3 linked regions of the Homo sapiens genome follow. The protein of the gene in region 2 interacts with the protein of the main gene of each other region in a biochemical or structural test. Each region holds a gene or a part of one and is shown on either strand. Other genes may lie near its edges. The genes, in order: SLC9A1, MAP3K7 and CYLD.

What was found.
Region 1: the proteins of MAP3K7 (region 2) and SLC9A1 form a complex in vitro, tested with the Homo sapiens proteins (one large-scale study listed by IntAct).
Region 3: the proteins of MAP3K7 (region 2) and CYLD form a complex in vitro, tested with the Homo sapiens proteins (one study listed by BioGRID).

What each region holds. Positions count from the first base shown.
Region 1 is NC_000001.11:27,113,527-27,117,179, reverse strand, and holds part of SLC9A1 (sodium/hydrogen exchanger 1), read left to right. Parts: intron 1-2,893; coding exon 2,894-3,354; intron 3,355-3,653. UniProt on the Homo sapiens protein: Electroneutral Na(+) /H(+) antiporter that extrudes Na(+) in exchange for external protons driven by the inward sodium ion chemical gradient, protecting cells from acidification that occurs from metabolism.
Region 2 is NC_000006.12:90,517,573-90,521,225, forward strand, and holds part of MAP3K7 (mitogen-activated protein kinase kinase kinase 7), read right to left. Parts: intron 1,748-3,653; coding exon 1,686-1,747; intron 991-1,685; coding exon 875-990; intron 1-874. UniProt on the Homo sapiens protein: Serine/threonine kinase which acts as an essential component of the MAP kinase signal transduction pathway. Plays an important role in the cascades of cellular responses evoked by changes in the environment.
Region 3 is NC_000016.10:50,794,086-50,797,738, reverse strand, and holds part of CYLD (ubiquitin carboxyl-terminal hydrolase CYLD), read right to left. Parts: intron 3,528-3,653; coding exon 3,311-3,527; intron 1,416-3,310; coding exon 1,231-1,415; 3' UTR 1-1,230. UniProt on the Homo sapiens protein: Deubiquitinase that specifically cleaves 'Lys-63'- and linear 'Met-1'-linked polyubiquitin chains and is involved in NF-kappa-B activation and TNF-alpha-induced necroptosis.

The sequences.
Region 1 (3,653 bases), on a different chromosome or scaffold from region 2:
CACTGCAGGTCTTTGGGGTCTGATGCCATTGTCTTGTCTCAGCTGCTTCTGCCTGGGTTGTCTGACTGATCTCGGTGGGTGCCAGGAAGAGAGAGAGGAACCTGGGAGATGACTGTGGATTGAAGGTTATGAGAGAGGGAAGCACCAGAAGATTCCTGCCCTAACCTGAGCAGACAGGTGGTGGTCAGGGAATGCTTCCTGAAGGAGGAGGCAGGCAGAGGATATGGTGTCAGCCACATATGGTGGGGGTAGAGGTAGAGGAATGATTTCTAGAGAGAGGAACTAGACTAGGTGAAGATTGGCAGGCAAAAGAGGATGTGGCTCATATGGGGCAATTGCAAGGAATTTGGCAAGGCTGAAACCTAAGAGTTGACAGTGGGGAGAATGGGACATGAGGCAAGAGCAGATGACAGAGGCAGTGCTGAAAATGTGGGCTTTATCCTCTACAGCAAGAGAGACTTGGGTCCAACATGACTAGCCCTTCCCAGTGGACCAGCCAGCTACACACTGGATGTTGACTGGTGGACAGTACAAAGACTGGGGGACTTTTCAGCAAAAGGGGTGATTTTGGAATTATTTTCCCTTTTATTGATGTGGGAAGTAGATGAACAAAAAGTGACTTTTGGTCATGTCTATTTTGAAATCAGGAGAATGCACATGGTGCCTTCGAGGTCCTCTTGGCCTAGGATGGAGACATCTTTTTTTCCCAATGTGTTTTGAGTGTCTTCAGGGTGCTTGGCACTGTGCCAGGATTCTGGGCCTGGATAGTGTTCAGTGTGTGAACTTTTTTTTTTCAAGATGGAGTCTTGCTCTGTTGCCCAGGCTGGAGTGCAGTGGAGTGATCTTGGCTGGAGCTCAGTGGCGTGATCTCGGCTCACTGCAACTTCTACCTCCTGTGTTCAAGCAATTCTCCTGTCTCAGCCTCCCAAGTAGCTGGGAATACAAGCACCCACCACCACGCCTGGCCAATTTTTATATTTTTAGTAGAGACAGGGTTTCACCATATTGGTCAGGCTGGTCTTGAATTCCTGACCTCAGGTGATCCACCCACCTCGGCCTCCCAAAGTGCTGGGATTACAGGCGTGAGCTACCGTGCCCAGCCAGCAGTGTGAACTTTGACTTGTCACCGTACTAGCACTGCCCAGATTCCTACCTGAGAGTAGGAAGGGCTTTGGGCATGGAGAGGGAAGTTCCTCCTCTGTCCCAAGGATCTCAAGAGTAAGTAATGAGAGCAGAGGCCTGGCCAGGCATGCAGGTTATCGGAAATCTTGGGTGATGTCCCAGCCCTGTGTATTTTCAAGTCAGCTGATATTTGTTGAGCACTTCTTGTGTCCTAGCCCTGGGTGTATAATGATAAGCAGTTATGGGATCTGCCTGCACAGAGCTTGCAAGATAGGGAAGGGGAGGAGAGAGAGCTTTGCTTTCTTCTTTCTTTTTTTTTTTTGAGGCTGGGCTCAAGTGATCTTCCTGCCTCGGCCCTCCTAACTAGCTGAGACTACAGGTGCATACCATGCCCAGCTATTTTTTTTAAGTGGAGATGAGGTCTCCTATGTTGTACAAGCTGGTGTCAAATTATTGGCCTCAAGTGTTCCTCCCACCTCAGCCTCCTAAAATGCTGGGATACAGGCATGAGCCACCATGCCAGGCCAGAGAGAGCTTTCCTCTTGAGCAAAGGGACAAACCCTCTTGGCTATGCCAACCCTGGGAGCATAGTACCCAACATACAACTAGATGCTCAGATTTTTTTCCACCTACTTTCCCACCCCAAAACAAAACAAACAAGTAAACCACTCACAGGAGCTCAGGGTTCTCTGGCCATACCTGATATTGAGAGAGGCCCTCTCAACGGGGATTTTTGCTACTCCTCAGCTCTGGGTTTGAAGCCTTAAGGTGGACTACAGCAGAGCGGCCTGTTGCTGGCCAGGACACGGCCTGGGGAGATGGCTGGTGGGTCCCAGGCAGAGGGGTGTGTGAGGAGGCCTTGATGGGAGGGAAGGATAGGAGAGCTTGAATTACAGAACTGTGCAGTTTGATGGGAACTGGGGCATCAGACCTGTGTTCTATTCTAGTTCTGCTCCCCACTTGCTGTGTGACTTTGGGCAAGTCCCTTCCCTTTTCTGAGCCTTAGTTGCCCCATCTTTAAAGTGGGTGGCATTGAGCTAGAAGCGGGATAGCAAATAGATTTTATCTCACCTGCCAAAGCTGGTTGCCACTGACATCCTTGAGCCGTGTCTTGAGCAGCTGCCTGGACTCAGTAGGAAAGCCTACTGTTTTGCAGGTTTGCAGACCCCAGGCCTTATTATCCCCAAGTTCCTTCCCACGCTGGTATTCTTAGATTCTTCTGTGCTTTCTTCTGTCTCCTATGCCACTCCCCACCAGCTGGTTGTCTGCCTTCTGCTTAAACAGCTCCGTGATAGGGAACTACCATCTTCCCTCAGACAGAATTGTTAGATTGTTATTCCTCAGGTTGAGCTCAGATCTGCCTCCCTGAACTTGTGCCTGGAATAATGCCTTGGGTTCAGGCGTAGGTGATGCCCGTAGGTACTTGGCACGTCAGTAATCAATTTATAATTTCTGCCTTCTGGAAGCATATAGAACTGCTGCTTTCTAACATTTTATGACAGTGACAGAGATAGCATGTATATATCCTTTGAAAAAAGTGCTTTAAAAACACTGTCACTTGGTTTATGATGGCAAACCTGTGAAGCTAGCATTGTCCCTTCCATTTTACAGGCGAGGAAGCGGAGGCTCAGAGAGTTAACAGAGCAGCCCTCTGAGACCCAGCCTGTGCACCTCTCACCAACTGCGCTCCTCATCCCCGGCCCATCCCCAACCTTCTATTCTCCTGGCTCCTCCGAAAGCCCATGGCCTCCCGTTCTCTCGCCCTCCGCAGGTTTCCATGTGATCCCCACTATCTCAAGCATCGTCCCGGAGAGCTGCCTGCTGATCGTGGTGGGGCTGCTGGTGGGGGGCCTGATCAAGGGTGTAGGCGAGACACCCCCCTTCCTGCAGTCCGACGTCTTCTTCCTCTTCCTGCTGCCGCCCATCATCCTGGATGCGGGCTACTTCCTGCCACTGCGGCAGTTCACAGAAAACCTGGGCACCATCCTGATCTTTGCCGTGGTGGGCACGCTGTGGAACGCCTTCTTCCTGGGCGGCCTCATGTACGCCGTGTGCCTGGTGGGCGGTGAGCAGATCAACAACATCGGCCTCCTGGACAACCTGCTCTTCGGCAGCATCATCTCGGCCGTGGACCCCGTGGCGGTTCTGGCTGTCTTTGAGGAAATTCACATCAATGAGCTGCTGCACATCCTTGTTTTTGGGGAGTCCTTGCTCAATGACGCCGTCACTGTGGTGAGGAGGCCAGGGGCCATGCCCATGTCCAAACGGTACAAACCCAAATCCAGGCCCACCAGTGAATCCCTCATCCACCCGCTAATAACAGTAATAAAAACAGCTGAGGCACATTCCCGCTTCCCGTATGCCAGGCACCATGCTGAGCCCTTCGGCATGGATTATCTCATTTAAGTCCTCATGGCTGCCTTAAGAGGTGCTTATTATTCTCATTTTCCAGGGGAGACACAGGCCCAAAGAAGTTAAATAACCTGTTGGAGTATGAACCAGTTTGTGATTGAACCAGGTCTGACTGACTC
Region 2 (3,653 bases):
TCAACATAAAAGTGCCAGCAGTTTGATAATTACTTCTACGATTTCCAAACTGTAGTATTTAATTTCCTATTTAGGCTTACCTTTCAAATACCAGGTTGGTTCCATTTAAATCACTGTATCAATAAATTATGATAAAACAATTTTTTCTCTCTTTTTTTTGAAGTACATACAGAAAGCTTTTCGCAAATTCAGAAAAAAACAACTTTCATTTATTTAGATTAAAATTAATGAAGGGAATCCTATTATCATACATATATAAAGTTGCCAAAATTTTTTCCTTATCACTTCATTTTAGTTACCACCAACAATTCAGTTACCTAAGTATAAAATTTCATGGAGGTCATGCTTAAGAAAACTGAAGATACATACATATTTAAGAACTGTGAATGCAGTAGTAAGGAAATTAGGCTGTGTTTCTTTAAAAAGGGAGGAAGGCAGTTTCTATAACTCCTCAGAAAAACACTCAGTTATGAAATACAGTCTTTTAATAAGTAATCCAATTCTAAACATACACCTGGAAAAAATGTATCTACAAAAATGTTTCTAAGATAAGGCACAACTGAATGTTAATAAATCAAATTATTTTATCTATTTACAAGAAAACAATAAATCTTTATAATAATAAGTCTAAACAGCTCTGAGAACATAAAACAACAAGTATAAAGCACCAGTTTATTTTCCATAGCACTAATATGATAGTCAAAAGGATTGAGTTTTGCATAAAAAATTTTTAGTAAAAGGGTGCTTAAAGCTTAAACAAGTTGAAAGTATACTTAATGACTAATTCTAAAAACTACGTTTTCATTGCACCTTATCATATTTTAAACTCAAAATACTAATGTATTTTTATTTTTATTCATAAAAAATAACTTACTTTCTCTGTAATAACAATGCAATTTCTGTTTGAACTTTCATATATTCTTGTGCCATTTTACAATGCTGTTCAAACACTGCCATAGATTCTTTGGAGTTTGGGCACGGTGCTAGAGGCTGAAAATAATCAGGAATGTTAAAACATAATTAAATCAAATTTCAATATCTAGCTAAGATGAGAGTCAAGACAGAGACTGTGATATATTTTTATAGCACTAAAGCAATGATCTTTTAAAAATAAGTGTTAAACCATGCCCTAGAAAATCTCAGTGTCCTTTTGTCAGAATTAACTCAGCATTTAAATCTATTCTTGCTGTTTTAACAGTCTGTTACAGAGAATCATGATTGTTGGAGTTGTAGTCTCTGGTATGACATTTCAGGCTGCAAACAGGCTCAAACTAAATGATGTTTATAGCCCTCATACTCATGAGGGGGCACTGAAGTATATTATTTACATTTTCAGTCACTATGAACATGAGAATGTATCACAAATGTATTAAATAGAAATAAGCTTATGAGTTTTGTTTTAATGCACTAAAATTAAAGAGTGAAAATGTAATGCTTAGCAGTACTAAAGAAAGATACTGGAGGATTTTAAGATGACTGAAAAGATAAGAATATGATTCTGCCAATTTAAAGTTTGATTAACTTAACCAAAAGAATTATTTTGATTTGATTCTAAAAAGTTTAAGGAGGCCAACTAAAAGGATAAATTAAGGAGTGACTATACAATGACAGGTAGCAACACAATTGTCAACTTAAACTCTCTAAGAAGAAAAAAGTCAACTTTCAATAAGAAAGTACTCCTTTACCTGTAGTTGGTGATCCAGTGTAAGATAAGCCATTGGGATGGAGTTATCTGATCCATTGGTATCTGGAATTCAAGCATGTATTTTATTGATTTTCTGTCACAAATAATTATAAACGAACAGCAAGAAAGCATGAATGAAATGCTTTTTTTCCCTAAAGTAAATAATATGTAAATTAAAAGTTACAGCTATTGGTAATTGAAGAGTCTATTTCTGAATTCTAAAGGTTAAAAAAAGGATATTCAATTATCAGATATTAGAATGCAATTATATTCTCATACCTATAATTTAAGTTGGCTATAAACTGAATAGAACACAATATATTAGAGCTTCTAAGCTCTTAATTAAAAACAAAAACAGTGATGAGACCTTTATATTTTAAATTCAGTCTTAATTGACCCTATCTAATCAAACTCCCCATCTCTTTTCTTTATCATGCTAAGTTTATTTTATAGAAGGCTATATCAACTCCGCTAATATCAATGTTCCTTAACAGGGAAAGGGAGAAAGCAGAGACACATTCTCTTCCAGTGGATCATTTTCAATTTATATAGATTATAATGTGACCTCCACCACTCATCCTGCCCTTCCCAGTAAGAATCACTGCAGAAAACGAGATGTTGGTGATGAGAGTATATTACAAATACGAACAGTAAGGAACCAAAATGAGGTTGAAACCTGTGGCTCAATGTCATGCCGAAAACAGTTAAGTTGATTAATTCAAACAATCAGTCAATTTTATAAAATTATTTGAATAGAATGCTTTTGTTTATATTTCAAAAGAGGTAAAACTGCCATACAACTTGACTGAGATGCGTGGGACAGTCTCTTCTCAACATTTATGGTTATGTAGAACAGTTCCAGAAGTAAACAGAGTAACTCTGAAGCAATACAGACTTTTCTACTTCAGAAGTAGTTGCTTTCCCACTGTTAGTAGACAAAAAAAGAGCTAAATGAGTGAGCTCTTCAGCCTTTTTCTGACGAATAACTCCTTGAAGGAGTGGTGTGGATAAAGGCAAGTCAGGAAGACAGCAGACGCACTGTATGCAATCCAAAAAAACTCAAGAAGGGTTGCTGGCTCAGTAATCTTCTAATTTATTGTCAACTGATAATCCAGGTGTTTTTTTTTCTTTTTGCTTTTGTTTTTGTTTTTTTAAAGCCACTGAGAACGTGCTCTCAAGAAACTCCAAAAGCTAATTAGCGAAATCAGACCAAATGAGCCAGTGCATGTGAGGAACACCATGCAAATCCTGGCGTATATTAAGCACTCAATACATGACGGTAGTTATCATTATTATTCATACTAAATGGAGAATTAGAAAGAACAATTTAAAATAGTATAGTATGAATTCCATATTGAAAAAGTAATGTTTATTAAATATTGCAGGGCAATACAGAAAAACAGTAGAGACTTAAGGCACTTACCCTTACCCTTAAGGCTCATATACAGTACTAACATAAATGTGTGTTTTTCTGAAGTGGCTAAACAAGAAATATACTTAATTTGTTATTTCTCTGACCAACTCTTCTCCCACCCCAACAGTGGTTTCAAACTACGCTCCCACATAAACACTGCTTTCCACAAAACTAAAACTGATTAAAAATGACTGATTTCCTCCTGATTTACTAGAAAAATTTAAGTGTCTTGAAAAAGTTTCAATTTAAGATTTCCATTCCTATTATTCTTTCTTAAATCACTGATACATTATATATCTCATTATATCAGCACCCTGTATCTGATATGTATTTTAGAATTAAGCTTAATACATCAGTGTTGCGTGGTATTCTGGGAGCAGAAAAAAAGTCCAAGGATTGTGTTATTCAAATAATTAAAGCCCTTGTATGGTGGGGAACTTAAGGTCCTTCATTGAATTTCATCTTCTCTCTAAAAAAAGAAGTGGGATTTCACTTTCTCACTTTACACTAAATTGATATTGAACTTCCAATCTCTACTAGCAATAATTGGTCACA
Region 3 (3,653 bases), on a different chromosome or scaffold from region 2:
GACTTTTCTGCCTTTCTGCACAGTTAGAAAGTCATTCAGGAAAGACAATGATACCACAAAACAACACTCAGAGAATGCACATTCCACAGCACTGACATGTATCATCTATGGTCCTGGTCTACAACATCCGCTGTGGTCTAAACACACACTATGGCTGTTATTAAACAAAACATCCCATTTCTACTTACTTTAATCAGAAGGAGGATGAAGCTGCTGCTAACATTTCGATAACATATCTGATTCTATCAAGTGAAACTACACTGAATTTAATGGGAGTACTGGCTGACAGATCAAACTTAAGTTCTAGACAGTCTTGTCTAAAATAATAGAGGTTTAAATATCCATCTCTCCCAGGAAATTGTAATAATTCTATATGCCAAATTCATTTTCTTATGGACTGTATGTTTGTAAAGGACTATTATCACTCCAATTCTTTCATCAATTTACTTTGCCCCATTCCATAAAATATTAATAGTTAAAAGCCTTAAAAAACCTGTTAGCTGACAGTAACTACTATGAATGAAGAGCTTCAACTGCTAAATACCCTAATCCTCCAGGAAAATCACTTCAAAAATGGACATTTGGGGACAGAATCACTCATTTATCTCAAAACCAGAACAAATAGAAAACAACACCATTAAGGGAATTTAAGTATTTTTCTGACCACTATTGCAGAAACACAGAAAAACTGAGCAGATTGTAGACATGCAAGATCAGCAGTATATAGAAAGGATTAACAAATCAAACTCAGTACATCTCTAATAACTGGATTGAGAGTAGACTCTTAATAAAACCAAATTATTTCTTCCTCAAGGCAACCGTTAGCTACAAAAGAAAAATGATTTCATATCCTTGGTCCATAAAGAAGACACATTTATTTACATTCTCAATGGACTAAAAGAGGCTTTAAACTTCCACAATTAAAATTGTATGCTTCCAAAAATATCATATGATCAATGCACTTAACTTAAAGCTTCAGGTATTAATAACTTCATTTAGACTTCTTAAAAAACCAACACAAACATACTTTCTAGAGTGCAAAATGCTTCTTATTAAATACTTCAGGGACACAAAAGCAATTTGTTTTTAAACAGAGGCATCCTTTTCTGAAGGATCATCACCACAAAGACATCCATTGCCGGCAATGGACGTGAACAGAACTGCCAGCTCGAATAAGATGCAACGTTAGGACTCTGCCTTCAGTTTCTTTGCCTTTCCCGATGACCCCAGTTATTTGTACAAACTCATTGTTGGACTCTGGTACATGCACATATATGCATCACAAAGCAGTCTTCGTGCACAGCCTTGGATTCTCCTGGAGTCCAAGGAATGCAGGTCTTCCAGAGACATCTTCAAGTACTCTCCTACTTCTGGGCATGGGGTGACTTGAGGAATGTTGAAGCCATTCTGACCACCTATGGCACAGAGGAAGAACTCTTTATAGGGCAGTCAAGTTCTAAACCCTTTTGCCAGTGATTTTATAATCCTATCATTTCCAAAAAGCTAATTTCAGGCTCTAAAAGCCTTTATTTTACTTCTGATTTCTGGAAGTGAAAGCCTCCTTTAACCCTTGACATATTCTCATTTCTTGGTTTCTGAAAGGATTCTGGGGCCAACAGTGAATAAACCTGGTAAAAGGACACGAATTCTGAGGTAAGCCCCCAACCTACTTTCCAGACTTCTCTCTGAATCATATTATCAATACATATGTAGACGACACTCTGTTCCTCACATTTCATTTCCTCCCAGACACAAGCCACCCAGCACACTTCACCATAAGACTGTCCAATTTGGAATAGATCTAGTCAAATGAACGCTATTATAGCTCCCTACACTTTAAACACATCCTTACGCAACTCTAATACAGTTTGTTTGACACATCACCAGGCCCTGATGAAGGTGCTCTGGGGTGTGATTTCAGAGATTCCAGGAAAGGCTCCTCTGGGTTACCTCAGTGGCTTTTCCAAACCTATGCTGTTGTGTTACGCTGTTTAGTGCAAATGTTAACTGGGTTGGGGGCACATCTACAGATGGGGCTGGGATGTATCCCTCAAGCATCAGAGAACTGAGAAAAGGTGGAGAACTCTTGATCTAGGGCCTGGGCCTCTGTTCAAGAGGCTGCCACAGGGAATGTCTTAGGCTACTGGAGGGCCACACCAGAAGGCCGTGGGGGCTGGATCTGAGAGAGCAGCTAAAGGAAAAATAGGGTATAAGAATGGAGGAACATGAGAGTCACACCTCACAACCTTGCCCAGGCCTGGTCTTAACCTGCAAACTCCTTATAGGTAGAGGCAGGGCTGCTTTAACAAACATTTCTTACCTACAACCCACTATCCTGCCTGGCATTCATTAAGCATTAGTTAAATAATGATTAAGCATCCTAGAAAGTGGCCTGGCAACTGCAGCCTATTCCCCACTTCAGGGAGAAAGATACTACATGCAGAAGAGGCTTTACTTTTCTGAAAAGGATGTTTACTTCTGCTCTCAGCTTTTGGCAATTGGAAGATAACATGGTTTAGTACAAAAAAACATATGCACTGAGATCAGAAAGACTGAGTTAAACACAAACTACAATACCTCAAGCCCCTTAAACCTCAGCTTTAATAACAGAAAAACAGGAATAATCCCCATCTTGCCAGGATTTAGGTAGAATGACTTAATGGTGCTCAATAAACAGCTACCGTGGCTCCTACAAAAATGAGAGGGGCCTGAAAGAAGACAGCGAAGCTGGAAATAAGATCCCTCAGGGCTGAAATAAGAATTTTAGGATTCTTTTTTTTAAAAAAAGAGCATATGCATGTCAAAATATCACAATATGAGGCTGGGTGCACTGGCTCCTCTTGTAATCCCAGCACATCGAGAGGAAAAGGAGGGTTAATCACTTGAGGCCAGGAATTTGAGACCAGCTTGGGCAACATGGCAGAAGCCCATCTCTACTAAAAATACAAAAATTAGCCAGGCATGGTGGCATATGCGTGTAGTCCCAGCTACTCAGGAGGCTGAGGTGGGAGGATTGCTTGAACCTGAGAGGTGGAGGTTGCAATGAGCCAAGATCACGCTGCTGCACTCCAGCCTGGGTGACAGAGTGAGACTCCATCTCAAAAAAGGAAAAAAAAAAACACAGCATATTATTCCTTAGTTCAGCTAGCAAGGTTGTTAATGCAATCCAAGATATAAGACTGTTGTCACCAGAATAATCCTGAAAGGATTTTCTCAGAAAATATCACTCAGAACAGGCGATCCCACTACAAACTGTCCCACTACAAACCAGAACCCTGTGCCACATGCAGAAGAAAGGCGTTTTCAGTACCATCCCGATCGGCCATGCTGTCAAAGAAGAGCCAGGCAGAATCGTCCTTCCCATACTTCACAAAAGCAACATAGTGGCTTGTTTCTATGCAGAGAACAGCAAATAACTCCATATTCTGGCAAGGGATGCAGCCGTGTCTCCAGTCCCAGTCGGGTAAGTCTTTGGGAAGTGACACTGGGTTATATTTATGATTCAGCCTCTTCGGATGAAGGTGGACCTAAAATGGACCATGAAAAGAATGTCATTAGGCCGAGGCTGGTGGATCACGAGGTCAGGAGTTCAAGACCAGCCTGATCAAGATGGTGAAACCCTGTCTCTGTTAAAAATACAAAAATTAGCTGGG